Linked DNA regions of Homo sapiens. The protein of the gene in region 4 binds, or shares a complex with, the protein of the main gene of each other region. Each region holds a gene or a part of one and is shown on either strand. Other genes may lie near its edges.

What was found.
Region 1: ING5 (region 4) and JADE3 share a complex: the UniProt entries of both Homo sapiens proteins name them as parts of the HBO1 complex.
Region 2: ING5 (region 4) and KAT6A share a complex: the UniProt entries of both Homo sapiens proteins name them as parts of the MOZ/MORF complex.
Region 3: ING5 (region 4) and KAT6B share a complex: the UniProt entries of both Homo sapiens proteins name them as parts of the MOZ/MORF complex.

What each region holds. Positions count from the first base shown.
Region 1 is NC_000023.11:46,907,741-46,915,515, reverse strand, and holds the start of JADE3 (protein Jade-3), read right to left. Parts: upstream 3,096-7,775; 5' UTR 2,797-3,095; intron 1-2,796. UniProt on the Homo sapiens protein: Scaffold subunit of some HBO1 complexes, which have a histone H4 acetyltransferase activity.
Region 2 is NC_000008.11:42,048,602-42,056,475, forward strand, and holds the start of KAT6A (histone acetyltransferase KAT6A), read right to left. Parts: upstream 3,387-7,874; 5' UTR 3,300-3,386; exon of another isoform or gene 3,149-3,299; intron 702-3,148; 5' UTR 377-701; coding exon 1-376. UniProt on the Homo sapiens protein: Histone acetyltransferase that acetylates lysine residues in histone H3 and histone H4 (in vitro). Component of the MOZ/MORF complex which has a histone H3 acetyltransferase activity. May act as a transcriptional coactivator for RUNX1 and RUNX2.
Region 3 is NC_000010.11:75,018,527-75,025,936, reverse strand, and holds part of KAT6B (histone acetyltransferase KAT6B), read right to left. Parts: intron 5,356-7,410; coding exon 5,124-5,355; intron 4,812-5,123; coding exon 4,652-4,811; intron 4,205-4,651; exon of another isoform or gene 4,146-4,204; intron 4,057-4,145; coding exon 3,706-4,056; intron 980-3,705; coding exon 688-979; intron 1-687. UniProt on the Homo sapiens protein: Histone acetyltransferase which may be involved in both positive and negative regulation of transcription. Required for RUNX2-dependent transcriptional activation. May be involved in cerebral cortex development.
Region 4 is NC_000002.12:241,697,057-241,705,419, reverse strand, and holds the start of ING5 (inhibitor of growth protein 5), read right to left. Parts: upstream 3,382-8,363; 5' UTR 3,355-3,381; coding exon 3,318-3,354; intron 2,953-3,317; exon of another isoform or gene 1,754-2,952; coding exon of another isoform or gene 1,537-1,753; intron 768-1,536; coding exon 696-767; intron 1-695. UniProt on the Homo sapiens protein: Component of the HBO1 complex, which specifically mediates acetylation of histone H3 at 'Lys-14' (H3K14ac) and, to a lower extent, acetylation of histone H4. Component of the MOZ/MORF complex which has a histone H3 acetyltransferase activity.

The DNA.
Region 1 (7,775 bases), on a different chromosome or scaffold from region 4:
ATGTTTCAGCTTTCCCAGCCACTGTAACTGGAACAACAGAAACTTGTGAGCCATTAAAGTGTCCCCATGTTAGGAGAGTGCCAGACAGGTGTCACCTAACACTCACTTCTCACCTATATTGTGGGACAAGTCAAGATCATAGTAAATCATACCTCAATGAGAGATTTTCTTAATGTAAGACAGCATATTACCTCTGTCTTCTCAGCTCCTATTTTGTGTAAGCTCCACAAGGAGGTAGGTGCATTATGTCCCCTGATAATGCTCAGCTTCATTTTTGGACTGGCTCTCTGTAACTCTGATCAAGGCTTGTAAGAGCCCTCCCTAATGCCATGTCTTTACCAGCACCTGATGCCTCCTACCTCCCCCACCTCTTCCAAAATACTTGCCTAGTTCCAGCCAGACCTCAAAGCAGTGGGCAGAAAGAAGATATGGCTTTGTGTAGGTTAGGGGAAAAAATGGGTTGTTATGGTTGGTGGAACACAAGAGAGGGAAAAGACAAGCATTATTAAAGGAGAGGACAATACTAAACCTACAAGTCTTCAACACCCTTTCTTCTTTAACTTTCACCAATCCATACTTCTTAGCTATGATGCCAGCCCTGCACCATCACCTGTCCTGCTCCTGGGAATCTCCCCTACGGGCCTGAAGGTGGGTCACAACACTTCAGGGAGGAGTGGGAAGCCTTTCTCTACTTTTTTCTACCTATGACCAGATTCACATCGCATTGCCGAGGGCAAGCAACATGACTCAGAGAAGAGGGGAGAGAGAAAGTGTGAATTCTAGAGCCAGACTTGCACCCCTGAGTATTCCAGAATTGACTGGACAGAAAGCAAGGCAACAATATTGGGTTAAAAGCTATTCTCTAGCAAACAAAAGCATAAAGAAGAGCACAACTGGAGAAAAGGTGGCAAAGATGGTGGCTAACATCGATTGAAAGTTGAATACACGCTGGGCACTGAAACACTTCTCAACGGTCTCAGGTAATCCTTGAAGAGAGGGTATTATCCTTTTACAGTTCAAGTATTTAAGCTCAGAGCTCACTTTAAACGAAAGAGAAAATGATATGTTATGGAGGTAGAATACTCTTAGGTTAAACAAAAAAGAAAAAAAATCTATTTTTACGTATCCGAAGAGTAATCACATGATGCTACAAAAGCATGAGAACCACACTACTCAAAGGGTACGAAGGCCGGGACCCATACTCCCATTGTCTACAGATGTTTTGGAAGTATTAAACTAAATAAAAACACAATGCTTTGTTCAGACCGACTCCTCTCTCAGCCCTACTCTTTCCCCCTCCCAGCCTAGGCTGACAAGAAGTGGCTAAAGGGAAAGTATTTAACAGGAGAACTGGTCTGGGAAAGTGGATTGTGGGTTGCTTAAACTAAGCAAAGACGTTGTGCAACCAGTTTTTACCTAAATTATTTTTCATTACTTCCCAAGTTTAGAGAGCAGCAGTTCACTTTATCAGACTGAACACAGGGAATGAGGTCGCCTTTCCCTCCAGGCCACCACTGGAATCACCTTCAACACGGTTTTGACTTCTTACACAATCAGACGGCGGGAGGGGGGAATCTCATCCTCAGCTTCATAGATAAACGCACCTCACGGCACACACACACAAACAACTCGCGCACATCTGAGGCCACGGATTTCCTTGCAACTCAAAGTCGGAGAAGCGGCCAAACAAGTTTCTTGCCAAATCCCTAGTAGCCACATATGTCCCAGGGCCGCACAGCGATAAAAACTTTGAAACATGCCTCCACATACCACCATTGTGGTCACTCACTCCAGATCCCGCCACCCCCTCCTCACAAATAACAAACTCAGGCTGCCCTGTGCAATTTAAAGCTAGACTCCACCGAAGCACTGGCTCTGCTGTGAAAAGCGGGAGAAAAAGATTGAAGGCTATTAAAAAAAACAACAAACAAACAAAAAACAAAACAAAACAAAACAAAAAAACAAACTACGGCCCCCGGGGCGGAGGGAATAAAACGAACTCGAAAGCTGGAGAAAAGTTAACTTTGCCGTGCCCAGCGGTGGGAAAATTTCCCCGGAAGACTAGCAAAGCCCTCACGATTTTCCCACCCCCGGACCGCCCGACGCTCGGCGGCCACGGACCCGCAGTTCGAACAATGCCGCCAGTGGGAGGGAAAGTTCGCCAGCCCGCCGGGCGCCCGCGCTCCCGCTCCCGCCGGGTGGGCACCCGGGCTTCCCGGGGTGCCTCGCCGCACCCAGCACCACCCGTTCTCCCCTCTCCAGGCACTCGGTTCTTTCCGCCCCCCAACAGCTAAACAGCCAGGGCGCGCCCTCGCTCCCTGGAGCATCCGACCCCTGGCGGCCGACAGAGCAGGTCCTCCCGCCACGGGTCTGGCCCCGTCAGCCCCGAAGCCAGGCAAAGGGCAGGAACGGAGGAGGGGGCGCCAGGAGGGGGCACCGGAGGAAAGAGCCGCAACAGTTATGGCGCTCAATTCCTGCCCGGTGTAGCCGGGAGCTGCAGCCGAGCTCGCGCGTCCGCCCCCGCCCCCCGCCCGGGCCACCAGGCACTACCCGGGCGGGCAGAGGGGCCACCAGGCACTTTACCTCAGCCCACACACGCTCTCGGCCCCAAGGCGCCGGGGACGCCGGAGGCGACCACGATGTGGAACCGGAGCGACCCGGAGCGCGGCGAGGCCGGGCCGGGACTGTGCGCTCCGCGCCGCCCGCTTCCACTCCCGGAGGCCGCCGCTCCCGCCGCCCAGCCGGTGCGACGCCCCCAACCTCGCCCGCGCCGGGTCCGGCCTCCGCGGCGCCTACCTTCGCGCAGCTGGCTCGCGGCTCCTGCCCGGCTCCACGCCGCGGCCCGGCAATGTGCCGGGTGAGTCCGGTCGGAGTGGTAACCGCCCCCCTAACCGCTCGCTTTCTTCTCTTCCCTCCCTCGCACCTGCCCCTTAATCCCCTCCTCGCCCCCGCCCCCCGCCGGGGCCGCCCCCCGCGCCTCAGCTCCCGCCCTCGGCCCTCGTCCGCCCGGCCCGTCAGGCCTCAGCGCTGGGCAGGCGGTTGGGCGGCGGCGGCGGCTGAGGCGGCGCGGAGCACTATTGTATTCCTGACACTGTGCGCTCCCACGCTCCGCCTCTTCCCTTTCCTTCCTCCCCCAACCTCTCCTCCCACCCACCGCCGGCCGCGCTCGCCCTACCGGAGCGGCTCCCAGCCGTCTGCCCGCCGCGCGTTCTTCTGGCGGGCTGGGCGCCGTCGCCACCCGCCGCCTCGACGCCCCGCCCACTCGCCGCTCCCGCACCCGCGGCGCCGCGTTCCAGGTGGGCTCCCCTCCCGTCCAGCTGGGTGCGCCACTGCCCGAGACGCCCCAGCCCCGCCGAGCGCTAGAGAGGACGAGGTGCAGATGCCTCGGCTGTGTTGAAATACAAACTAAGCTTTTCATGGCCCCTTCCAACTCTGAAGTTCCAAAGTGGGACTCTCATACATCAACTCGGTGGCCGCTATTGATTTATGTCGCTTGTGCTTGAATTACCTGTAATAATAAAGCCAAGGTGGCTATTAACATAATTCATTTATTCAGTTGCCAGCACAGGTGGTTTGTGATGTTGTGTGGCTTTTTCGATGTGTCCACTGGTTAGGCTATCGCCCACAGTTATTTGATCGAATGCCAATCCAGGTGTTGCTCTGGAGGTATTTTGCTGATGTAATTAAAGCTCCTAATCAGTTGACTTAAAGTTAGGGAGATAATCCTGGATAATCTAGGTGGGCCTGACGGAATCAGTTGGAAAGCCTTTCAATCAGGGCTGAGGGTGCTGAGTACGTCAGAGAAAGAGAATTTCCCCTATGGATGACACCTTTGGCCTATGTCCATTGGTTCCAGCCTGCTCCTGATCTTCCCTTCCTGACTGTATGCCCTACAGATTTTGGATTTACTTGGCCACCATAATCGTCTAAGACAATAGCTTCGAAGAAATGAATGAACAGGGAGTATATATACGTATATTCCCACCACGCATTCTTCTGGCAGGCTGGGCACCGTGGGTGTATGTGTGTGTGTGTGTATATATATATGTATGTGTGTGTGTATGTATATATATATGTGTGTGTGTATATATATATGTGTGTGTGTGTATATATATATATATATATATAATTTCCTACTGGTTCTGATCCTTTGGTTGAATCCTAATATAGATGTTTAAGCAACAAACCTTTTTGGCTTACCTCTCTGGGTTTGGAAATGTGCTATATGCAACTATGATGAACTCATTCTCTTTCTTTTTTCTTTTCCTTTTTTTTTTGAGTCAGGGTCTCACTCTGTCGCCAGGCTGGAATGCAGTGGCTCGATCTCGGCTCACTGCAACCTCTGGGCTCCCTGTCACCCAGGCTAGAATGCAGTGGTGAGATCTCTTGGCTCACTGCAACCTCTTGGCTCCCTTCAACCTCCACCTCCGGGGCTGAAGTGATTCTCCCACCTCAGCCTCCCAAGTAGCTGGGACTACAGGCACATGCCACCATGGCCCAACTTATTTATTTATTTATTTATTTGGTAGAGACAGTTTCACCATGTTGCTCAGGCTGGTCTTGAATTCCTAAGCTCAAGCTATCTGCCTGCCTGGGCCTCCCAAAGTGCTAGGATTACAGGCATGAGCTACTGTCCTGGGCTATTTTCGTTTACATTTCTAGGATGAACAATAATGTAGGCTCTTTTGTATTTTGTCTGTTTTCCATGTTAAAGATCTAGTTATATTCCATAATATGGAAATGCGTGAGTTCTAAAATATTCGTAGTCCTTCAGACTTATCTCACTTTATTATACTTATTTAAAAATAATTATAGATTCATCAGAAGTTGTAAAAAAAAATGTACAGAGTGGTCCCATGTACCCTTTGCCCAGTTTCCCCCAATGGTAATAGATAACTATAATACAATATAGATATTAACATTAATACAGTCCACAGACCTTATCCAGATTTCATCAATTTTCATGCACTGATTTCTGAGTCTGTGTATATAGTTCTGTGCAATTTTAACACATTTAAATTTGTGTAATCACCACAATCAACTTTTTCTCCACCACAAAGATTCCTCCTGCTACACTTTGTAGTCACAGTCACCGCTTTCTCCTCCTCTAATTTCTGGCAACCCCTAACACGTTCTCCATCTCTATAAATTTGTCATTTCAAGAGTATTACATAAATGGAATCATACCTTTTGAAATCAGCTTTTCTTCACTCAGCATGATTTTCTTGAGATGTACCCAAGTTTGTTGCATGTCTCAATGATTTGTTGCTTTTTATTACTGAGTAGTATTCTGTAGTATGGATGTCCTACAGTTTGTTTATTCATGCATTGAAGGTCATTTGAGTTGTTTCCAATGTCTGCCTATTAAGAATAGAACTGCTATGAGCATTAATGTAGAAGTTTTTGTGTAAACATAAGTTTTCATTTCTCTGTGACAGATGCTCAGGAGTGCAATTGCTGGGTCAGATGGTAAGTGTATATTTAGTGTTACAAGAAAATGCCAAACTTTTCCAGACTATACCACTTTATATTACCACCAGCAATGTATAAGAGATCTAGTTTCTCCACATCTTTGTCAGCATTTGGTATTGTCACTATCTTTTTCTTTTAGCCATTCTAATAGGTGTGTAGTGATACCTCATTGTTGTTTTAAATTGCATTTCCTTAATGGCTAATGCTGTTGAGCATCTTTTCATGTGCTTATTTGCCATCTGTATAACCTCTTTGGTGAAATGTCCGTTCAAGTCTTTTGCCCATTTTCTAATCAGATTGTTTCCTACTGTTAAATTTTGAGAATTCTGTATACTACATTCTAGATACAAGTCCTCTGTCAGATATGTGATCTGCAAATATTTTTCCCAGTTTGTAGCTGGTCTTTTCATCCTCTTAAGAGATTTTGCAGACCAAATTTTAAATTTTGATGATGTCCAATTTATCAATTTTTGCATTTATGTATCATGTTTTTGTGTCATGGCTAAGACATCTTCATCTAGCTCCAGGTCCTGAAGATTTTCTCTTATCTTTCCTTCTATAAGTGTTATAGTTTTATATTTTACATTTAAGTGCATGATTCATTTACTTTTTATATAGGATCTAAACCTAAGGTTGAGGTTCATATTTTTGTCTATGGTTGTCTGATGGCTCAAATAAAATGACTACTTTTCCTCCACTGAATTGCTTCTGCACGTTTGAAAAAATCGATTGGGCATATTTGTGTGGGGCTATTTGTGTGGGGCTGTTTCTGGGTTCGCTATTCTGTTCTATCGATCTATGTGCCTATACCTCTGTGAATACCAGTCTTGATTACTCTAGCTATATAATAAGCCTTAACATTGGGTAGAGCACTTCCTCCCACTTTATTGTTCTTTCTCAGAATTGTTTTAGCCATTCAAGGTCATTTGCCTTTCCATATAAATTTTGGAATGAGTGTATTCTGTATCTACGAAAACCTTGCTGGGATTTTGAAAGAAATTGTGTTAAGCCTATAGATCAGTTTAAGGTGAATTGACATCTTTACTATTGTATATTGAATTTTCCAATCCATGAACACGATATGTCTATCTCTCCATTTATTTAGATCTTCCTTGACTTCTTTCGTCAGCATTTTTGAATTTCCAGCATACAGAACCTATGCATGTTTTGTTAAATATATACCTAAGTATTTCATTTTCTTTGTCATGATTGTAAGTGGTATTGTGTTTTTAATTTGTCTTCACATTCATTGGTCATTGTTAATATATAGAAATGCAATTAATTTTTATGTGTTGATCTTGTTTCCTCTGACCTTACTAAACTCACTTACTAGTTCTAGGAATTTTTCAGCAGATTCTTTGGGATTTTCTATGTAGACAATCATATTATCTGTGAATAGGGACAGTTTTATTTCTTCCTTTCCAATCTGTGCGCATTTTATTTCCTTTTCTTGCCGTCTTGTTCTAGCTAGAACATTCAGTACAATGTTGAATAAGAGTGGAGAGAGTGGACATACTTGCCTTGTTCCTTATCTTAAGGGGAAACATTGTCTTTCGCCATTAAATATGATAGTTGCAGGTTTTTTGTAGATGCTCTTTATTGAGTTGAGAAAGTACCTCTCTATTCACAGTTTGCTGAGAGTTTTTATTATGAGTGAATGCTGAATTTTGTCAAATGCCTTTTCTGCATCAAGTTATATGATCGTGTGATTTTTCTTCTTTAGCCTGTGGATATGGTAGATTACATTGATAGAATATTGATTTTTGAACCAACCTTTCATAGCTGGAATAAACCCCATTTGGCCATAAAATAATTATTTTTATACCTTGCTGGATTCTATATTGCTAATGTTTTGTTGCAGATTTTTGTGTTAAAGCCCATAAGAGATAAAAGTCTGTAGTTTGGGGGAGATTTTTGCTACAGTCCTTGTCTGGTTTTGGTATTAGGGTAATACTGGCCTTATAAAATGAGTTGAGGAAGTTGTGCAGAAAAGAGTTAACATAACAGGCTCTTGGCAGGCATCTGTGAACTTGGATTTCAGGAGAGCTCTCATTGTTCCCAGAACTGATAAGAATGGCTAACTATATCTAAGCTGTTTGTACAAATGTTATTTATGCTGGGACTAGAACTCAAGTCTCCTGATTCTCAAGCTGTGCAGAAAAGAGTTAACGTGAAAGGCCTCAGTGCTATCCTTTGAAAGCCCTGCATGCAAGGTCGGTCCTTGGATGGCATTTGGAACTTAGATTTGAAGAGGGCTCTCACCATTCCCAGGGCTGATGAGACTGTTCACTGGGCCTAAACTG
Region 2 (7,874 bases), on a different chromosome or scaffold from region 4:
TCAAAAAACGTTCAATGCTTTTCAAAGTTGAGCCACCAGACTCTGCCAAGCCCTCAACTGCCCGCTTTATCAGTTTATTCCAATCCACATTTTGTTTATTATCCAATTTTCCATGGTTCCGAGGCTTAGGAAGTGCTATTCGCCCAGGATTATCAGGATCTTTATAGGAATTGAGTCCTTTATTTGAGACTTTTAAAATTGTTCCATCTTTAACACTCAACTCCAATTGTTCTAAAACAGTTTTACGATCCAAGCCATGGGATGAAGACACAGCATTGCATATCCTTTCTTCTGAAGGACGCTGTTTCTGCTTTTTCACTTTTTTGATGGCCTCCAAAATCCACTCAGTATAAAGCGGGTTTGCGAGTTTTACCATGGTGAAGGATTCTGTATATCCATAGAGTCGTTATCCCTTATCCTGATGCTGAGTAAGTTTTACACCATGGAAAACAAGATTCTCGGAGGCTGGGAACCAGTTAACCATAGCATATGAGTTTTCTGGCCTAAGTCCTTCCTCCTTTCACAAAACAGAATGCCACCCCAATTGTACTATAGAAACCAAAACAACCTGTTGATTGAAATGTCTTCCAACTTCCCAATGAATTTCTCAATAGCACCACACATGGGTCTCGTCATAAAGTTGTAAGAACTCAAGAATATTTCATTCCCGGCTCCAGAGCAGAAAAATGTGCATCTTATGCCTGAAAAGCAATGAAAATAAGGTCAGTTTTCTACCAAGACCTATTTCGAATGAAAATAAGCATCCTCATCATAAAGCAATCAAACAGCAAGTGTTTACTAGGCACCCTTAAGAATTTCCAAACTTATCTATTAATATTCCAAAACAATCATGTATGTAAACCATTGGGATAAAAAAGAAAAAAAAAGAAAAGAAAAAAAAAAGATGAGTAATTAGGATACAATGAGGAAACACGATGACATGTTCTAAGAATGACCTTTAAGCTACCACTAACCAGAGTGGGTGATGGCTATTCTGTACTCCGCAATCTCTGCTCACCAGTCTAGGAATTTCAACTCTTCCTTGACATCTTTCCCCAAGAAACTAGTCAGCACTTCAACAAGTATCTGGATTAGTAGAAAGAATCCTGCAATGAAAGTAAAAGTGAATCTTTCATCTTTCAAAATTCTAGACATTCAGAGTAGACAAAAACAGTCAATAAGGCAGAAAACGACTGAGAAAATTTTAGTTCTTACATGAAAAGAATGAATACAATATGCACACCCAGTTTATAATTTAAGTACAGTATTACCTTAATCTCTCCTAATGGAAACAAAAATACTATTGAAAATAGCCTAGAGTAAAAGTGCTTACTGAATTTAACAATAATCCACTTTCATTCAAATTTTAAGAATTACATGCTGATAGCTTCTCCTAACCCAAACTAAGATGTTTCTATTCATATGCTGAAGAGAGTCACAACTGTCAAACTGCGTGTAAGTAATTCAGACAGGAAAACTAGAAATGAGGAAGGCCCAGAATCACTGGGGTCAACGCACATACTACATATCAAACGGACGGTACAGAAAAAGAAATACACTGGCTACTTGTAGGACTAAAGAGAAGCCCAAATAATAAAGATATAAATTCAAGATTGCTGTCCTGAAACGAACATTAATAAAACATAAACAGAAATGTACTGTCTCTCTGAATCAAAGTCAGTATCCCTATAAAAGAATCTGGTAGATGCAATCTTGTTTAATCACTAAAGTACTGAATTCTGAATCTAACTCTTTTGCCTCCAAAAATAAGTTTAACTGAAGTGTTTTTTAGAACTTCTGCTCTCATTCTGGAGATCATTTGCATTACAATATAAACAATGCTAGACAAATGGCTCCCACAGCAACTATTCTTGGTAGTGACATTAAAATCAAACGGAAAACTAATACACACTAGGAAAGAGATATTACTATTAACTCTGATAGGAAAGAAAAGAGTGAAGCAAACATTCAAACCTGAGCCAAGATTTGTTTTTAAATCAGCTGCCTAAAAAGAAGCCCCCTGGGAGAATCATGCTTCAATTTGGTGAGGGTCTCAAGAGGATAGAAATCAGAGTATCATTACTCCAAGTAAGCTCATTATACAGATATTAAGTCTAAACTAAATGAGAAGCTACATCCTGAGTTTAACAAGCTGGGAACGAACGTCCTAATTGACTAAGCTTCGCAGGTAAAAGAATGAGTGACAGTCACTCATTGTCTTTCCAGTCGGGATTGTCATCAGTCTCCAGGTCTTCGGAAAGTCAAGCGCCTGCAGCCTCGGATCTTAACTCCCGGAAAGTACACGAGCGGCTAGAGCGAGCGCAACTCGCTTCCGACAGTCCTTCCCGTCCCCATTCCCCACCCCTAAACACGTCTTCGCGCTCTCTTTTCAAAGAGCGAGAAACTTTAAAAACTTGGATCTGCACAGCCCGGCAGCTCGCCGACGGGGCGCTGCACCGTTTCCACGCGATGGAAACAGACCCCGAGCACAAGTTAACAATGAAATCACGTGAAGGAGTTCAGAGCGGTGCATAGCCCCGGCCCAGCTCCGCACCCTAAGCTCTGGGGGCCGGCTCGAGGGCGGCGCGGGTTGCTGGGAGCCTGACAGTCGCGCACCGGGCCAAGCCGCGAGGTTGACAGGCGCCCGGCCTCCCCTCGGCGGCTGGGCTGACAGCCCGGCAGACACAACACCACACGTGCTGCGCCTCGCACCACAACACCCGCCGGCCTGTCAGCCCCGCTCGCCGCCTCAGCCCCGCTCGGATCCCCGCGCCCCCGGCCGGAGCCAAAGCCGGAGCCGGAACCCGAGCCCGAGCCCGAACCCGAGCGCCCGCGAGCGCGGGGAGAAGCGGCCCGGCCCGGCACAGCCGGCACGCGCGCGGCGGGCGGGTGGGCGCGCCCCGAGGGAGAGCGGGCTCGCCGGCTCCGCCAGCCCGAGGCTCCGCGGCCTGGGCCGCTCGCCGCCCGCCCACCCGCCGGCTCCCCCAGGGCGGGCCCGGCCGGCGGGATCGGGGGCGCGGGGCCCGCGAGCGCGGGGCCGGGCGGCGGCGCGCGGGCCGCGGGCCGGGGCAGCCGGGCGCCGAACAAGCGAGCAAGCGAGCGAGCGAGCGGGCGGGCGCGAGGGGGCGGCCACGGCGCCCCAGCCCGAGGCCTGGCGCAGAGCAGCGGGAGGCGGCGCAGGCCGCGGCGGGGCCTGCAGCGGCCCGCCGACCCCGCGAGGCAGCGGAGTGGGCCCTGGAGCGGCTCGGCCTCGGGCTGGGCGGCCGGGGGCGGCCGGGAACGGCCCCTCGGCTACTTACCGGGAGGAAGGACAGCCGAGATCCCGGGGCCCCGGGCCGGACCGCGGAGATGCCCCAAACTGACACGGCCGCCATCTTGGAGACAGTGAGCTCCAGCCGGGGGGAGGGGAGGCAAGGCGGCGGAACAGCCGCGGGGGGAGGGGAGCGTCGCGAGGGAACGGCGGCCTGGGGGAGGGAGCTGGAAGAGCCTGGGCGGGCGGCGAGGGGAGGCGGAGGCCCGGCAGCGCGGGTGGGGGGCGGCCGAGAGCGGGAAGAGCTGGGCCGAGAGCCGGGAAAGGCCGGAGGGCGGGGCGGGGCAGCAGGGAAGAGCCGGCCGGCGGGGTCACGTGGGGCCGGTACAAAAGGCCAAAGCCAGGGGAGGAGGAGGACTTGGTGGGGCTGGAGGCTGGGGAGCGGGGGTTCCTCCTCTCCCGTCTCACGCGTTTAAGTCAGACGGCGACCCGGGAGAGGAGGAGCTGGTGCACCCCATGCCACCGCTGGGGAAACTGAGGGCAGGAGTCTGGGTGGGGTGGCTTCAGTGTGGCACGGAAATCCGGCAGCCACGCAGGATGGGAACTCTCGGCGGCGTCTGTTTACAGTTAGTGAGCCCTCCCTCCCCACTCATTTGCCTGCACAGCGACTTTCCGGAGCCCGAGGGCGGGGCCTGGGGGGCGGAGAGGAGGCGGCTTCCCGTCCTCACCCCTGGCAGCTCGCCTCAGCCCCCGACGGCTCTCCTGTGTCGGTGGGAAGAGTTGGGGAGAGGGTGGAACCAGAAGCACCCGTCTTAACCCCTTTCAGCAGTGACTTCATTTCTTCCCTCCCCCAGCAGCTGAGAGGGTTCTTGGAGCTCACTAGAGCCATTTTATGGGAGACTCCACAGACCTGGGTCGTGTGACTTGGACAAGGTCACACAGCTAGTATGTGGCGCGCACCTGAGCCTGGGACTGAGATTTGTCTTATTCCAAAGCCGGTCTTCCCTTCTTGCCCTGTGCGGAACTCTTGTCCATACTTAGGGCGTTGGAACCACGAGCAGGCGGTTCTTCATGGCCTGCCTGTCCACTACTGGCTGTATGGACGTTTCTTTGTCTTGCCTTTCATCTACTTTAAACTCTTTGATGCAGAGACTGAGTCATACTTTTTTTTTTTTTTTTGAGACAGTGTCGCTCTGTTGCCCAGGCTGGAGTGCAAGTGGTGCGATCTTGGCTCACTGCAACCTCCGTCTCCTGGGTTCAAGCGATTCTCCTACCTCATCCTCCTGAGTAGCTGGGACTGCAGGCGCCCGCCACCACGCCTGGCTTATTTTTGTATTTTTAGTAGAGACGGGGTGTCACTATGTTGGCCAGGCCGCTGGTCTCGAACTCCTGACTTCAAGTGATCCGCCCTCTTCGGCCTCCCAAAGTGCTGGGATTACAGGCCTGAGACACTGCACCTGGCCAAGTCATGCATTTTTTTTTTTTCTGCATTCACTAGAAAGACAGTAGACATGAAAAAGACACTAAATGTTTAATCGTTGACATGGACGTGTATCCTGCTGCCTGACCTTTATCTGCCCTGTCCCCAACCCCATACGACACACCCCGCCTAGACTGTCGCCCGCAATACCTCATTTTATCTCAGCTTTAGCTTTTAAGGGCCTCCCTCTCACCCACTGCCTTAACTTCCATGCTGACTTCCTTTTCTGAACTTCTGTAGTAGTATCATTTGCTCTAGTCATTTTGCACTTACATGTGATATATATATATATATATATATATTCCGAATACATTCACTGGTAAATGCTCTCCTATAATGACTCTGCATCTCCAGCACCTAGAATAATGTTGTACAAGTACTGTAGTAGGCGGTTTAAAATAAAAAAATGTTGCTCGTGAATGAACAATTTTTTAAGCCGTTAAGAAAGCCGTTTGTGGCGGGGCGCTGCTGTAGCCCAGCTACTCGGGAGGCCTGCTTGAGCCCGGGAGTTCCAGGCTGCAGTGAACTATGATCGCCACTACACTCCAGCCTGAGAGACACAGCAAGAGGGAACCCAAACTTTTCTATCTATCCCGTCTCCACTCTAATCCATAGCCCTACCCTCCATACGGTAGACTCTGGACCATTCAGTAAGAATAACGTAACTTTTCAGATCATGGTCCAGCCTAATCAATATCCTGACACTGACAGAAACAGAAGTGTAATGTAGTGAGGTTGACTGAGTTGCCATTCATCGCCTACTTCCAAGCCCCATCTCCAAAGCAGTAGAGAAATTTGGAATACATGATAATCCAATAGAAAGGATCTCTTTCATCCTAGATGAATCAGATAGACACATTCTCAGGTAAAATGGTCCCTGTTTGTAATGAAATCACCTCCAGGAAAAAAAAAAAAAAAAAAAAAAAAAAAAATATATATATATATATATATATGTATTTTCTTTTAGTAGAATAGGCAGATTTTTATTTCCCAAAGAGGGCAGATAAAGTCATATTAATGCAAAGACAATGAGTTCTTCATGTGAGACTAGAGTGTGTGGCCTTCAGAAGAAAAATAATACAGAGATGAGTTGTGTTTACTTTTGGATAATTTGGAAGAAAACTAGCCACAGCCATCCTGTGAAAAGACCAAACTGGGGATTAAACAGTAGCAAGAATTTAAAACAATTTATAACAACAAAGCACAGTTGAGCTTTTCACACAGCTTCCATAAAGAGTCTCTGCTTTACATTTGCATAACTAAATGGCACATTCAGGAGGTCTTCTCAAAATAAAAATCTTGCAACAAAGACGGATTAAAGTCCTCATCATTTGCAAGTTAAAAAGCAATCTGCACTCTGAAAGGATAGTTTTTCTTAGCTCAAACTTTACTCACGATTCAGCCCTGTGGAGCTGGCAACTAAAGGTTATTTCCCCCTTGCATATTTTGCTCTAGGAATCCCTGCCTTTTCACTTGTACTTGGTACTTGTGTCTTATACAGAGTCCATGCCAGCCTGAAATTGGAAGTTTGCTCTGTCCTGGTTTCAACAGGAAACATTTTTAGTCCATTTACATTTAATATAATTACTGGTATATGTGGATGTATGCCTACCATCTTACCATTTATTTTGGATCACCTATTTCACATTCCTTGTTCTCTGCTTTTTGCCTTCTTTTGAATTAATTAAAATATTTTAACTATATCATTAACCCCCTCTATTAATTTTTAAATTATACATTACTAGTTTTAGAGATTACAACATTGCTTTTTGACTTATGATCTTATACAAAATAATTACTTTTACCACTTCCCCGGGAATGCTAAGACATTAAAATACTGTATCTCCACCTACCCATCTCCCTTTTGTGTTTATTGTCGTCAAGGATTTTAATTGTGTGTGTATTTTAAGCCACACAAGAATTTATACTTATTGTTCTGTACAATAAGTACTCATTTAGATTAACCTCCATATTTATCCTTATATTGCTCTTCATTCCAATATGCATTTCTGTGCTTCTGTCTGAAGGTTTTCCTTCTATTTGAATAATTCCCCTGTTTTACAGCAGGTCTGCTGATGACAAGTTCTCTCCAAGGTTGTTTGAGTTTTTGCTTTTTGTTTTTTGTGGGGTTTTATTGCCTAAAACTTTGCATTATCCTTCATATTTTTGCTGGGTATAGCATTCTGATTTGGCAAGTTTTTTTTGTTTTTTGGTTTTTTTTTCCCAGCACTTTGAAGATGTTCTTCCATTGTCTTCTGGTTTCTGTCACTCCCTTTTATTCCTTTGAAAGTAATGTCTTTTTTCCTTTGACTCCTTTTAGGATTTTTTCTTGTCTTTGGTTGTCAACAGCTTTACTATGACGTGTGTAGATGTGGTTTTCTTTGTATTTATCCTACTTGGGTTCATGAGTGCAATGGGTGTATGCGGAGTCCCTTGCATTTGTGGGTTTATATCTTTTAGGAAATTCTTGATCACTGTCTCTTCTCTCTCCTTTCCTTTTAGGGTTTAAATTATACATATGTCAGAATTTTTCATTGTTTACCATCTGTATTTCCTATCATCTTTTTTCCCCCATTTTTTTCTCTATGCATGAGTCGGTATATTTTCTATTTAATTGTGTACTTTTAAACCCATTTGTGAATTCTTTATTTTGTTTATTATATTTTTAAGTTCTAGAATTTTCATACGATTCTTAAAATCAAATTCATTTGGAGAAATTATTTATTTATATATGTATTTTCTCTGCTGTTGCCTTTATTTTCTTGAACATATCAATCCTAGATTTTTTTTTAACCCTAGATATTTTAAAGCTCTTTCCAATCATTACAATAGCTGAATCTTCTGTGGATCTATTTCTATTGTATATTCTTTCCATTGGTTTCGGTCATTTTTTTTCCTGGCTCTTAGCTTGCCTGAGAATTTTTAATAGGATGTCACACTTTCAAGTATGAAAAATTGCAGAGGCTCTGGATAGTATTATCATCATCCAGAGAAGGATTCCTACTGTCCTTTGCAAAGCATTTAGAGTGAGAGCTAACCACCTTAATCAACCAGAGACTGAGTTAACTTGGGGTTGGGTTTTGGCAAGATTTAATTCACCTCTTTTTTGCTGCTGCTCCAGTAGCATAAGCCTCCAGGGGTTCC
Region 3 (7,410 bases), on a different chromosome or scaffold from region 4:
CCAGCTGCCTCAGTCTCCAAAAGTGCTGAGACTACAGGTGCACACCACTACATCTGATTAATTTTTGTATTTTTTTTAGAGTAGGGGCTTTGCCATGTTGCCTAGGTTGGTCTCAAACTCCTGGGCTCAAGTGATCCACCTGCCTCAGCCTCCCAAAGTGCTGGGATTACAGGTGTAAGCCATCATGCCCAGCTTAGTTTAGATGAATCTTTATAGTAGTATATACTACGACACTACTGATTATAAAATGTACTATTGATTTACTAATATTTGTTTTCCAGGAAAAAAGAAACGATTCCATTCAATGCTCACACTGATAATAATATATACCTTGATTTCAGAAATAACTAAATGTGAAAAAAAAAAGTACATATTAGAATCAAAGAAATGTAATGTGTTTCTTGTCAACAGACTTCAAAGTTTTTGGGGATAAGCCAATTTCTGGTAAGTAAGATGAACCCACCTAGAGGAATGTTCTGGCCTTAGAAGTTGTTTAACATAAAATCCAATTCCAGGAAGAAGGGAGAGAAGCTTGTAAGGATGGGAAAGGGCAGATGGGCACTTGCTCCAGGTGCATCAGCACCACTTCGCAGGTGCCTCTGGGCATCACGCCAGAGGCCTGCTCTTTGGCACCCAGTCAGATACAGACATTCTCAAGGGTAAGGTTTTTATCATTCCTCTACTTACTTCTACAAGGGTCAGCATTCTTGAAGCAATGATTGTCTTTTCCTTCCTCTTCCTCTGTTTGTCTTTTCTTCCCAGGCTGATGCTGGAATGCTTTTCTCAGGACTGGCTTCCTGCCATCTTCCTCCACTTCAATCTCACAGGTAGGCTCCAGCTGTGGCATTGGCCTCTCTTCATCTGAGTTGTCAAAGGGCTCATTCAGTACTTCTGTCGTCTCTGAAATGGTCTCTGTTGTTACACTGCTGTTGATCCTCCTGCGTTTACGACCCCTTTTCTTCTTTAGTACAAAAGGCCTCTGAAATTAATTCCAAACATAACACATAAGAGCTCATGAGAAATTAAATGGTTGAGTCGATATGCAGTAGACATGTACTGAACGCGTGTCTGAGAATCTTACACGTGGTGACTTCTGTAATGCCTTTGTACTTAACCTTCCATTTGATGTCTAACATCCCTCTCGGGCTCCAACTACACAGGCAAGTGTTTTCCAAATAAAACAGTTGTTTACTCAAGCAGATGCTCTGAGAGGGAACATCCTAGCAGCTTGACTGGAGATTTTAAAAACTAAGCTTTGCTTTTCTAGCATATATTTTTCCAATGGTACTTGCTGGCTTCAATATTCCTCACATCACAGACATTTAAGGTCATCACAGACTCTAATGTCTTTATAAATGGTGCTGTAATTAACTAGCCACTGGGTTAACCCATTTAATACTTGAGAACTCTTGAAGGAGCACCCACTATGTGGACAGCACTGGGAAATATGATACAAGACCAGCCTACTTTTTCTCATTCCATAGGACTTCAGGGCTATGAAAAGGAAAGGAAAGGTACCTGAAGAAAGGATTACTGTTTAAAATGTTAACAAAGTCAAGTATTGGTGGCTGCTGAGATGTGAGCAACTGATAACCTGGCAAAATATTTTAATAGAAGGAATCTAAAAATGTTAAAGACATGCCAGATGTCTTATTTGTATGATATAAAAATATTTTTTTCTTTTATTTTTCTTTTTTGTAGAGACAGGGCTTTGCCATGTTGCCTAGGCTGGTCTCGAACCCCTGAGCTCAAGTGGTCCACCCGCCTTGGCCTCCCAGAGTGCTGGGATTATAGGTGTGAGCCACCGCACCTGGCCTAAAAATATTTTTTCTGTTTGCACTAAAGGTTGGCACAAATGACTGTCCATAATTGTAATTATAAAATGTTTTTCGCCCAGCAAAAAAGTTTTTAATGACACAAAATTCAAATAGAGGAATAGCAGGTAGATTTGCTGCTAAGATGTAATTGTTGCCCCCCAAATTATTGAAAATACACTGCAAAGAAGGGTTCAATATGCTTGGTTAAAAGCTAACCTTCAGGTAAACTGTATTCAATTATTATTATTATTATTTTAAAAATACTTATTTATTTTTTATAGAGACAGAGTCTTGCTTTGTTGCCCAGGCTGGTCTTGAACTCCTGAGCTCAAATGATCCTCCTGCCTCAGCTTCCCAAAGTGTGGGGATTATAGGCGTGAGCCACTGTGTCCGGCCTCCAAGAATTCTTGTGTCTTACTTTTGTTAACGCTCTGAATGCTCACTGAAGCACACACGTAGCCAGTTAATCATATTCTGTAATTAAACATTTACGGTTATTATTCCCCCCAGTCTGCCTGCCCTCTTTAATCCATGAGAATTTTCCCTAATATGAGGGAAGCCAAGGTAGAGAACTGGTTTTCTTCAGGTTGAGTCCAGTTCAGATCATGCCTTGGATGATTCTGGTTTTTGATAGTTTTAGAACAAATTTCTTTTATTATATATACAACACATGAATACACACTCCTCCTAAGAAATGGAAACATTATTCTTAAGCCTGAAGTCTACTTTGTGGGATGCTCCTTTCTACCACCTCCCCATGGAGACCCTTCCAGAAGACTGCCAGGCCTAGAAGAGCGCTGAGCTGGGAGTTAGAACAGCAAGTTCCCTAACAGATGCCACATCAGATGGCCTTGGGGCGGAGCCTTAGCTTGTATTGTGATATCTCTATCAGTCTTGGCTCTCCTCTATGTCCCAGATAGATACTGAAGACAAAGATATCAGATCTGGGTGAGCAGTTACCTAAAAACAAAGTCAATTCTTTACTTTCTGTACCATTGGAGATGATATGGTCTATCTAGAGACATCACTGGGCTACTAAGATCTGAGGAGATTCAGTAATGCGCAGTTGGCCACAAATGCAAAATATCACCATCAAAATTAAGGGCCTAAAATGCTTTCTAACAATTCTGTGCCAAGAACAAGAGAAAGAAACAGCATGAAGAGCACTGGGCTTGGAGTCTTTTTGTTCTGTTTTGAGACAGAGTTTCGCTCTTGTTGCCCAGGCTGGAGTGCAATGGTGCGATCTCGGCTTACTGCAACCTCTGCCTCCCTGGGTTCTCCTGTCTCAGCCTCCCGAGTAGCTGGGATTACAGGCGCGTACTACCGTGTCTGGCTAATTTTTTGTATTTTTAGCAGAGACGGGATTTCACCACGTTAGCCAGGCTGGTCTTGAACTCCTGACCTCAGGTGATCTGCCCACCTTGGCCTCCCAAAGTGCTGGGATTACAGGCGTGAGCCACTGCGCCCAACCCAGGCTTAGAGTCTTGAGCACGCATTTGGTTCTGCTTCCATCTCTAATGAGTCATATGACCTTAGAGAAGTCTCCTGGCCTCTAGGTCTTGGAGGGTGGTTTAAGTGCTTTCTGGGGCCCCTTTTTGTTCCCATAAACCTCAGTTACTCTACTCCTGCAGACCAGCAGGTGGCAGTGACTACTAGACTAGGAGGCTGGCCTGTCCCTGGTTTCCTGTCACCGCACTAACAAACCTGAAAAGTAAACATAATCATGACTGTGAGATAAACGATTATGATATATGATCAGCGGGACTGGGTACACATAAACTACGACTAAAGAACAGAGAGTGAAACAAATACTAATAGACAGAATGTCTGCAATGACAAATAAGATTTGATTGAACGCGACTCACAGAAAATCTAAACAGACACCTACCTTTCTCTTTATGGCAACTGACTGTGGTTTCGTCAATCTTGGGGGAGAGCTTTGAATATTTTCTTCTTCTTCTTCTTCTTCTTCCTCTTCTTCCTCCTCTTCATCCTCTTCCTCTTCTTCCTCCTCTTCTTCCTCCTCCTCGTCCTCCTCCTCCTCTTCTTCTTCACTGCTCTCTTTAGACAGCTCCAGCAGCTGCCCTCGCTCCCCTGTGACTGGCCGGCTCTCCGGGGAATGCAAATATTTATTTTTCGATTGTACTTTTGCAGGTGATTGCCTACTGTTAGCTCTAGTTGACAGGATTTCTTGTTCCTCCTTCTCCCAGCAGCTAGCTTGTTCCATTAGCCGCTCAGCCTAAGTGGGGAGGGTAAAAATGGTGGCCAGTGAGAGGGCAGTTACACAGCCAGAGCCTCTGAGGATCAATGGCAAAGTGTCTCTAAGTCGGTTCTGATCAGGACAGCCAGCCAGCCAAGCACATTCCAGCTGCATCATCTCAGGAACCTTTTGCATCAGTTAGGATAACAAATCAAAGAAGATTGGGTTTCATGGGATATTTAACAGTATTAATGATGCAGCGAATTGATTTGAGTCCTTTATCACTACATTACATGCTCACTGGCAAGGAGCACTTTAAGCAAGTTCATAAACACAAAGAATCAATTGACACTGCAGCCTTGGAGCTCAGCACCGAATTTGATCTGATTACATGCTCTCAGTAGTGAAAAATGCTGCTTTGTAATCAATGATAAATGTTTCATTTTTCATACTCAATTCAATAAAATTATCATGTCTTACCATGCAACCTCAGTTAGGATAAATTAGTGCCATATCATTTCACATGCTATCTCTACATAACCAAGCTTTTGACAACGATCTTAATGACTTTCTTAGCTTAAGAATGCTACAAGATTGAAGTTACACAACTTAGGATGATAAAGACAATCATTACCTCTTTCTCAGCTTCTCGCTCTTCTTCAGACACTGCAGCATTAGAAATTAAAATTGGGGTCCACCTCAGACTGTCTGGATCAAGTTCATTGGCTCTGGAACAGGTTTTCAGCTTTTCCATGTGGCTCAATATCAACTTTTCCCGTCTAATGATGACAAATCTGTAATGTGATAAGGCAGAACAAGATGTAATCACAAGCTGAAATTTCACTTCAGCTTCACATACGGACATATGCTAGCACTAATGTTATCTGCGTTAGGAAAAATCAGAAAGCACCTCAATGAGAGGGTACAGAACACTGGAATCCAACCAGTAAAAAAGTGTCATTTCATGTGTTATTTTTAGGAGAAAAGGTTTGATAATACTGTTAGGGAACCTCAGTCTTTAACTGGAATGAATGCACCTATCTCCAGGGACCCTTTCTGGTGTGGGATGCCTGAGCCACGGAGCTGCCCAGGGTCCCAGGACTCACCTGCCATCTCTCTTGTCGATCATGTGGAGGTGCTGCAGAGTGGTGGCAATGTCATGTGGGCACATGCCCGTCGCTCTGCTAATTGCCTTGATGCTGATGTGCCTCTCATGGTGGTGGTAGAGATACTCCAAGATGACGCTCTTCCAATATGCCAGGTAGGAGAGACGGCCCAGATCGGAGAGAGGCTTTTCAGGAGACCCTGCTTGGCCTTCTCTTCTAGAAAGCAAATAGCCTAGGGCAGAAAAAATAAATGGGCATTCCTCACTGTGGCATTCCCAGAGCTTAGAACAGGAGCCACTAGAAATAATATGAGTAGTGACAAGGTAAAAACATCACAACAGAGAAGTGCATTCGCTTTAGGAATGTAGCCTCTTCCCAGTTATAGTGATTTGATCTCCGTGAAGTTTACGCTCCTGAATCTTTGACAGTGGCACTCTAAGTCAATTCACGCAGCTAGCAGCAGCATTCCAAACACATATTGTGACATATTTAACAAAGACTAAAAGCTATGGTTGAAGACATTACTCCTGCTAAGTCTCAACATCTAAGTCTCCCACAGCTTTAGATTCTTTCAAAAACGAAATGTCAGGCACTTACTCAGAAATCCTGTCGAGGGACCACCCCCAACATTAATGGGCAAGTTGTTTTCCACAGGAAGGACCTAATGACCCTTTGACAGCTGGGTCTTAATAAAAAGAGAAGGACCTCTGTTGACTCAGAGTCTATATTGCTTGTTACATTTAACTAGCAGGTTGATCTGAAGCTTTGTTTTAGGACTAATAAAAGAATGTCTTTCAAGTCAACTGCTGCAACTCCCATCAGCTCCACTAGCTCCATTTTCACCTCTTTCATAGAAATTAATTTACAATCCAATCCCAGAATATTGCTCCTACAAATTAAGACAAAACAAAACAAACTCCTTAAAACAACCTATTGCATGTATGCTCAGAAAATCCCCCAGCATCTTAAGCTTTTGAACGCATTTTACAGCATTACTGTGAAGGTTCCTTGGCAAAGGAACTTTAAAAATGGAAAAAAAAAAAAAAAAAGAAACCAGCCCTTTAAATCCACTTGAAGGTAATGAATGAAAGCTGGCGGCTGTCTCAGTAATTAAGAGCCACTTATGGGGTAGAAAAGAAATGCTATAAGCTAATGATGTCTACCTTGCTCTAATTATCTATTTCAACAGCCTCACCTTCATGAACTTCCTAAGTTTAAACAAACATCAACCACATACAGTAGGTGGCAGCAATGACAAAATCATACGGCTCCATAAACCACCCAAATCTTCAGCATTTTTCTTCTTTATCTACATTTCCAAAATGGCTGCATTCTCAAGAATTTTCTCAATTTTAGGGTTATTTTTTGTTAAAGAAGAAATCAATGCCTCTGATGCATTTTCCTGCATCTCAAAATCACTGCAAATACAGTAATGCAGAAATACAAAACAAGAATCCAGCCTGAACCCTCGAAGGGTATAATCACAGCATTTTGCATTTTGATGGCTTTAATCTGAATGCCATTATGAAGAATAGGCGTAAATTTAACTTCAGGTTTTGCTAAGGTCTTTTGACTTATTTGTCTCTTTAACCCATGTTTAAGTGCAAAGTATTTGACTGAATGCAAACAAGCACCGCAACATTTTACAGTGAAACCACTGTCTACATGTAATTTGGCAGCAGATTGGGGCTTTCAATAGCAGTGTGTCAGGAATGCTAACACAGTGATGGCCACTGTGCCGAAGCCAGCCCATATTGTGTCCTGTCAACACGAAGAAGAGCTCTCTACGTCTCTGTGTTGCCAGAGTATGAAGGGAGCCCACACCTCAGAATACAGATAATTGGCACATCCGTCACCTGCCTCCAAAGTGCTTGGCACATGCTGAGAAACGTACCCAGGAGGCTGGGGGGTCCCAGCTTTGTACTCCTGGGGGGGTGAGAACCATAGAGCCGTGGATATAGAACCATTCCCTTTTGTCCATGAGATCCCACAATTGAAAGTCCCCTGCAGTGAGTGTGAAAGTCCCCAGGTCCTCTACTGGTGCTTATTTGAATCCAGCAGTCAAGGACAGAAAGCCCCACTCCTCTCAGCCTTGCTGAAAGAATTCTGTACAACCAAAGTGTTCATACCAAGGTGGTATGTGCCCCCCCATACCTTATGTCCCCCACTATGATGGGCCAGCTTACCCAGAAGCACATGTGTTCCTTTGTTCTGTCTCCCCGCTACAGTCCCTAATCCGGAAGGCAGCAGCAGCCAGCATCAGAAAACCCACGCTTTCCGCAGCTGT
Region 4 (8,363 bases):
TCTCAAAAAAAAAAAAAAAAAAAAAGAAAAAAACAGAGTTAGGGCCAGGCGAGGTGGCTCACGCTTGTAATCCCAGCACTTTGGGAGGCTGAGGCGGGCAGATCATGAGGTGAGGAGATCAAGACCATCCTGGCTAACACGGTGAAACCCCGTCTCTACTAAAAATACAAAAAAAAAATTAGCCAGGCGTGGTGGCGGGCACCTGTAGTCCCAGCTACTCAGGAGGCTGAGGCAAGAGAATGGTGTGAACCCAGGAGGCAGAGCTTGCAGTGAGCTGAGATCACGTCACTGCACTCCGGACTGGGCGACAAAGCAAGACTCCGTCTCAAAAAAAAAGAAACGGAGTTAAATATCAAACGGCCAAAAAGTACTACCAAACTTTTAAAACAATGCACGCACTACACACTTTGAAAATTGAAAATATTTAAAAGAAAAAATTGGCAATAAATATTTTGATTGGAAAGGGTGATGGTTATAAAAACATGATATAAAGATGTGTAAGAACCCAAGAAACAATGTGGCTTCAAAAGTATCAACACCTACTGCAAGACACTGAGTGATACCCACGGCCCAGGGCTAGGCCAATGCCCCACTAACCTGGGTCCCCTCAAAACCCTCTGCCCCCAGCCTTCAGGAGCTGCTGGCTCCCACCTGTCAGAACTCAGTTCTGGTTGTATGGAGAGGTCTGAACCCACCTTCCGTCCTCTGGTCCAGCTCTCGCATCAGCTGGAAGTTCCTCTGAAGTTCGCAGGGAAGGTTCTCGATACCTGAAACGCAAAAACACAGAAGCCATGTACCTCTCAGCAGCAAGACAAAAATTCACCTCCAAAGGTTTTCTGTCTTTTTTTTTTGAGATGGAGTTTCACTCTTGTTGCCCAGGCTGGAGTGCAGTGGTGCGATCTTGGCTCACTGCAACCTACACCTCCCAGGTTCAAGTGATTCTCACGCCTCCGCCTCCTGAGTAGCTGGGATTACAGGCACATGCCACCATGCCCGGCTAGTTTTTGTATTTTTAGTTGAGACGGGGTTTCACAAGGTTGGCCAGGCTTGTCTCGAACTCCTGACCTCAGGTGATCCGCCCACCTCGGCCTCTCAAAGTGCTGGGATTACAGGTGTGAGCCACCAGGACTGGCCAAAAGTTTTATACTTCAAGTCTACAAGCCCACTCTGTATTCTGTCTCTGTCAGGGTTTGCGGAGCGGAAGGACTGTGATCTCATTTTTAGATGCAGGTACCAAACAGTGCTGACAAGAGGCTGTGTGCACACTTCGGAAGCTGTCAGAAGTCAAAGAAGGGAGAGGGAAACTTGGAAACCAACAGCACAGGCAGGGGAGGCCAACTGACCCCACCCTCTAGGCTGCCCCCCCTCAGTGAGCAGCATCTTCCAAGGCTCAAGCCAAAATCCCCTGGGTCCTCCTTGATCTTCCCCTACTTTACCCAGAAATCCAGTGCATTGAGCAGTGTAGCCACGCTGCCCACGCGACTTTATGCAAGGATAGAAATGTTTCCTCTCTCGGATGGGCGTGGTGGCTCATACCTGTAATCCCAGCACTTTGGGAGATCAAGACAGGCAAATCAGTTGAGGTCAGGAGTTCAAGACCAGCCTGGCCAACATGGTGAAACCCTGTCTCTACTAAAAATACAAAAATTATCCAGGCGTGGTGGTGCACAGCTACAGTCCCAGCTACTCGAGAGGCTAGGGCATGAGAATTGCTTGAACCTGGGAGGTGGAGGTTGCAGTGTGCTGAGATCATACCCTCCAACCTGGGCAACAGGGTGAGACTCCATTTCAAAAAAAATCAAAAAAAGAAAAAGAAAAGAAATGTTCTCTCTGAGCTGCCCAAGACAGTGGTGGCCATAGGGAGCTACTGAGCACTGGAAATGGGACTAACGCCATTCAATTTTTAATTTTACTTAAATAGTCCCTGTGGCTAGCGCAACCATTCCCCACAGTCTGCCAGGAGGACCCCCGTGCTGCTTTCGCGTCTGCTTTGTTACCCCCTAGACCAGGCCAACCTCCGCCCCCTGCACAGCTGACACAGGCTCCTAAGGGGGGCTGCCTCCTCCAGTCTTGGCCACCCTCCCATCTGCTGTTCACAGTTACCAGGCAATCATTTTAAACCTAACTCTATCTTATGCATCTGATGCTTCCAGCCCCAGTGTTTTCCCAGCTCCCCTAGAGGACAGAGGCACAGCCTCCCGGCTGGCACAGCCTCCCAGACACACACAAAGTCAACCCTCCTTGGGAGGCCAGCCCACTGGCTGGGCACCAGGATAGAGAAGGCCTCCCCTCCAGCGTGCTCCCCAGCTTGACTCTTCTACCCAGGGAACCCCCCACTACTCAGACCCCCAAGAGACAGCGGAGCACATGGGCAGAATCGGGCGTCCCTCTAGGGCAGCGGTCTCCAGCTCCAGGCCACGGCTCACTCGCCACTGTCTCAGCCCCTGGGCGGGTGCCAGGCCGAAGACCATGAGGATCCCCAGTGCAGCGCCCCCACAAGGGCCCTCCAGAGCCACCCGGCACAACCCCAAACACCGCGACCCCAAAGCTGTGCCCATCCCGGGCCGACGTCAGGGGTCCCGCGTGGGGTCTGCCCCTCTACGAGCGGGAGACCCTGAGCAGGCTGCTCGGCAGCGCTGGACCTTCCCTGGTGTGTAAAGTGAGGGAAAGCACCGTCCGCTCAGCCGCTGGGGGCGCCGACCTGCTGCCACCTGGAAACAGCACAGCCCGCCCACCAGGGCCGACTCGGCACCGCCCTCCCCGCCTCCGCGCCGCAGTCCCCAGTGCCGGGGAGAGACGCCCCGCGGCCCGCACGCCCTCCCCAGCCGCGGTCACACAAGAGGCCGGCGCACACGGGCGCACAGCCAGGCGGAGGCCCAGACCCCGGAGCCCCCAAGGCCCGGAGCCCCGCAGCGGGCGCCAGCTCCTCCTGCAGACGGGACAGGGACGGGCGGGACCTGGCGGGGCCGGGGCCGGAGCTGGGGGCGGAGATGAGGCGGGGCCTGGGTAGGGGCGGGACCTAATATGTGGGCGGGGTCGAGGCCGCAAGCCCCGCCCAGCATCGCCAGGCCCCGCCCCGCCGTGACGCACCTGGAATTGGCGCGACCCAGCCGGCGGGACCCCCCGCGCCCGCCCCCCGCGCCCTCCCCTCCCTTGCGGCCCTGCCCCGCCCCGTCCGCGCGCCCCCCGTCGCGCCCGGCCGCGCCCGCCGCCCTCCCGAGCCCACGGGGTCTGCATGCGGTGCCCGGCGCGCGGGGGGCTGCGGCACGGAGGACTCCGCGTGGGCGGCGGGCGCGGGGCCCGTGGGGCGCGCTTACTGTCCAGATAGTGCTCCAAGTACATGGCGGTCGCCATCTTCGTCCGCGGCCGCGCTCGGGGTCTGCGCGGGCGGGCGGTGCCGCGGGAGGCGGGGGCGGGGCGGTGCCAGCGCGCTCACTATTCATGAGTCGCGCGCGCTGATTGGTCGCGCCCGGGGGCGGGGTCGGACACGCCTTTCAGCTTCCGGCGGGCGGCGGGCTGCGGGGCCCGGGCGGAGGTTGTGGCAGCGGCGTCGGGCAGCGAGCAGGACCCAGGGCCGCAGCGGATCGGAGGCCGAGGAGGAGCAGGGGTTCCCGGCCCCACCGCCCGGCGTGCGGCCCAGGGCACCCAGGTGGGCGTCTCCCCTCCGCACCTGTCAGCGACCCCTGGGCCACCAAACGCAAACACGTGGTCCCGGGGACCTCACGCCCGTCCTGACGGCGCCCACGCGACCCCTGCTCCCGGCCGGGTCCCGGACAGGCCGCCACGAGGCCCTCCCTTCCCGAAGGCTCCTTGGGACCTGTCTGGCTCAGCGCCTTTCCCCCGGACCCCGAGCCCCCGGGGCCTCAGCCCGGCCTGAGCCGAGGGCCGGCACCGCGTGGCCCGGGCGAGCTGCCCCTCCCTCAGGGCCTGGGCCCTGGCGCCCTTCCCCCGCCAACGCCGCCCCTTCCCTCCGAGGAAAGCGGCCGCCCCGCCCAGCACCAGTGAGGGCACTGGCTCCTTTGCTGCCACCTCTCGAGGCAGGCAGGACCCGCACCATCTGGATGCCTTGGCCGAAAAGGCACGTGCGGCAGTATGATATAGTTAATAAGATGGCGTGCAAAGGTGTGCCGTAAGATGCATGCAAAAATACTGGAGAAGGCCGGCGCGCTGGCGCACGCCTGTAATCCCATCACTTTGGGAGGCCGAGGCGGGCGGATCACTTGAGGGCAGGAATTTGAGACCAGCCTGGCCAACGTGTTGAAACCCCGACTCTACTAAAAATACAAAAAAAAAAAAAAATTAGCCAAGCGTGGTGGCGCACGCCTGTAGTCCCAGCTACTCCGGAGGCTGAGCCCGGGAGGCGGAGGTTGTAGTGAGCTGAGATCGCGTCTGCACTCCAGCCTGGGCGACAGAGCAAGACTCTGTCTTCAAAAAAAAAAAAGAAAATTTTAAGAAAAAAAAAATACTGGAGAAACATAATTAAAATATGTTTCAGACTCGGCACGGTGGCTCACGCCTGTAATCCCAACACTTTGGGAGGCCGAGGCGGGCGGATCACTTGAGGGCAGGAATTTGAGACCAGCCTGGCCAACGTGGCGAAATCATGTCTCTACTAAAAATACAAAAATTACCCGGGCGTGGTGGCGGGCGCCTGTACTCCCAGCTACTCGGAGACTGAGGCAGGAAAATTACTTGAACTTGGGAGAGGGAGGTTGCAGTGAGAAGAGATCATGTAACTGCACTGCAGCTTGGGTGACAAGAGCAAGACTCCGTCTCAAAATAATAATAATACAAAAACTAGCCGGGCATGGTGGCAAGTACCTGTAATCCCAGATACTCGGGAGGCTGAAACAGGAGAATCGCTTGAGCTTGGGAGGCGGAGGTTGCAGTGAGCCGAGATTGCACCACTGCACTCCAGCCTGGCCAGCAGAGCAAGATTCCATCTCAAAAATAAAATAAAATAGGGCAGGCGCGGTGGCTCACTCCTGTAATTCCAGCACTTTGGGAGGCCAAGGCGGGAGGATCACGAGGTCAGGAGATTGAGACCATCCTGCCTAACACGGTGAAACCCCATCTCTACTAAAACTACAAAAAAATTAGCTGGGCATGGTGGCGGGCGCCTGTAATCCCAGCTACTCGGGCGGCCGAGGCAGGAGAATGGCGTGAACCCGGGAGGCTGAGCTTGCGGTGAGCCGAGATCGTGCCATTGCACTCCAGCCTGGGCGACAGAGCAACACTCCGTCCCAAAAAAAAAAAAAAAAAAAAAAAACTTAGCCGGGCATAATGGCTGGTGCCTGTAATCCCAGCTACCCAGGAGGCTGAGGAAGGAGAATCACTTGAACCTGGTACGTGGAGGTTGCAGTGAGCCGAGATCGTGCCACTGCACTCCAGCCTGGGTGACAGAGCGAGACTCCATCTTAAAATATAAAATAAAATAATTTAAAGTGTTTAAATATTAGTCTTTGGGGTGATTCTTCTCTGCCTCCAAACTGTGTAGCATCATCATGCAGTGCTCACCAGTACCCATGTCACTCCTCTTCCCACTTCACCACTGGACGCCCCCAAGCTGGGGATCAAACTCATCTCTGGCAGGTCTTTCATGGGTGAGGTGTGTCACTTCCCAGTCCTGTCTCCACTCCCTGTGATCTCAAGAGGACGTCCCAAAGGCTCCCCGAGCCCCAAGAACTGATGACCACTAGATGTAACGTGTAGGCCCCAGAACCCCCCGCCCCACCCCCAGCCACATCCTTGACTTCCGAGATGCAACGTTGCTGGTCACACAAATTAGCATAAGCTGATCAAAGGAGCAGTACTTTCATTATTTAAAATGCATTTTTAAAGATATTAAGCCAGCTGCTGTGACTCAAATCCGTATGATCACCATGAGAGGCTGAGGCGGGAGGATGGCTTGAGCCCAGGAGGTCTAGGCTGCAGTGAGCCATGATCAAACCACTGTACTCTTGCCTGGGTGACGGAGACCCCCACCTAAAAAAACAAGCTATGTCCCCCTTGGTGGACTCTTCCCTAAACCCCAGTCAAATATTGAAAACCAGAAACAATGTTTTTGCCACTATTATGTTCATTATAAAAATTCAGGCCAGGCATGGTGGCTCACGCCTGTAATCCCAGCACTTTGGAAGGATGAGGTGGGTGGATCACCTGAGGTCAGGAGTTTGAGACCAGCCTGACCAACATGGAGAAACCCAGTCTCTACTAAAAATACAAAATTAGCCAGGCGTGGTGGGCATGGGCCTGCAATCTCAGCTGCTCGGGAGCCTGAGGCAGGAGAATCATTTGAACCTAGGAGGCAGAGGATGCAGTCAGCTGAGGTCATGCCATTGCACTCCAGCCTGGGCTACAAGAGCAAACCCCTCCCCCCCCAAAAAAAAATTCAGCTGGGGTGGTGGCTCACGCCTGTAATCCCAGCACTTTGGGAGGCCAAGGTGGGTGGATCACCTGAGGTCGGGAGTTCGAGACCAGCCTGACCAATACAGAGAAACCCCATCTCTATTAAAAATACAAAAGTAGCTGGTTGTGGTGGTAGCTGCCTGTAATCCCAGCTACTTGGGAAGGTGAGGCAGGAGAATCACTTGAACCCAGGAGGCAGAGGCTGCGGTGAGCCAAAATCATGCCATTGCATTCCAGCCTGGGCAACAAGAGCAAGACTCTGTCTCAAAAACAAAAAAATTAAACAATACAGGAACTTTTAGCTTCCCACCTCCCCAGGGGGCAGGACTGTGATTGCCTTGTTCAGCTTTCAGTCCTAATGTTAGCAGTTTGAGTGCATCCTTACTGGCCTCATTTAATTATAGACTATTTTTCCATCAGTTTTAGGTTTATTGAAAAGTTGAAGAGAAAGTAGACTTCTCATATACTCCTCCACACACACACACACACACACACACACACACACACACACACACTCCTCTATTATAAACATTTTGCATTAATGTGATACATTTGTTACAATCGATGAAACAATATTGATACTTTTTTTTTTTTTGAGACCTCAAATTAGCTGGGCTCGGCTCACTGCAAGCTCCACCTCCCGGATCCACGCCATTCTCCCGCCTCAGCCTCCTGAGTAGCTGGAACTACAGGTGCCCGCCACCATGCCCGGCTAATTTTTTGTATTTTCAGTAGAGACGGGGGTTTCACCGTGTTAGCCAGGATGGTCTTGATCACCTGACCTCATGATCCTCCTGCCTTGGCCTCCCAAAGTGCTGGGATTACAGGCGTGAGCCACCACGGCGGGCCCGATACATTATTATTAACCAAAGTCCATCATTATTTCCATAAGGGTTCATTCTGCCTTGTGCTTTTTTTTTTTTTTTTTTGAGATGGAGCCTGGCTTCTTCGCCCAGGATGGAGTGCAATGGTGCAATCTTGGCTTACTACAACCTCCGCCTTCTGGGTTCCAGCCATTCTCCTGCCTCAGCCTCCCAAGTAGCTGGGATTACAGGCAGGCACCACCACGCCTGGCTAAGTTTTGTATTTTAAGCAGAGATGGGGTTTCACCCTGTTGGCCAGGCTGGTTTCAAACTCCTAAACTTAGGTGATCCACTGGCATCAGCCTTCCAAAGTGTTGGGATTACGGGCGTGAGCCACCACGCCCAGTGCCTTGTGCATTCTTATAGGTTTTGACAAATGTATAATGTCAGCTACCCCCCATTACATGTCATACAGCATAGTTTTGTGGCCCTAAAAATCCCCTGCGCTTCCCGATTCATCCCTCTCCCCCTCCCGAGGCCCCTGGCAACCACTGATCATTTTACTGTTTCCAGTTTGCTTTTTCCAGAATGTCATGTAATTGGAATCATACAGTATGAGCCTTTTCAGAATGGCTTCTTTCACTCAGCAATATGCATTTAAGGTCCCAGCGTGCCTTTCCGTGGCTTAATAGCTAGTTCATGTTTAATTTGAAAAATATTCCAACGTCCGGATGTTCCACAGTTTACCCATGTACTTTTTTTTTTTTTTTTTTTGAGACAGAGTCTCGCTCTGTCACCCAGGCTGGAGTGCAGTGGCAGGATCTCGGCTCACTGCAAGCTCCGCCTCCCGGGTTCATGCCATTCTCCTGCCTCAGCCTCCCGAGTAGCTGGGACTACAGGCGCCCGACACCACGCCTGTCTAATTCTTTGTATTTTTAGTACACATGGGGTTTCACCGTGTTAGCCAGGATGGTCTTGATCTCCTGGCCTTGTGTTCCGCCTGCCCCGGCCTCCCAAAGTGCTAGGATTACAGGCATGAGCCACAGCCCCTGGCCACCCATGTACTTATTAAAGAGCATCTTGGTTACTTCCAATTTTTGATTATTATATTATTATTATTATTTTGAAACGGAGTCTGTCTCTCTGTCACCC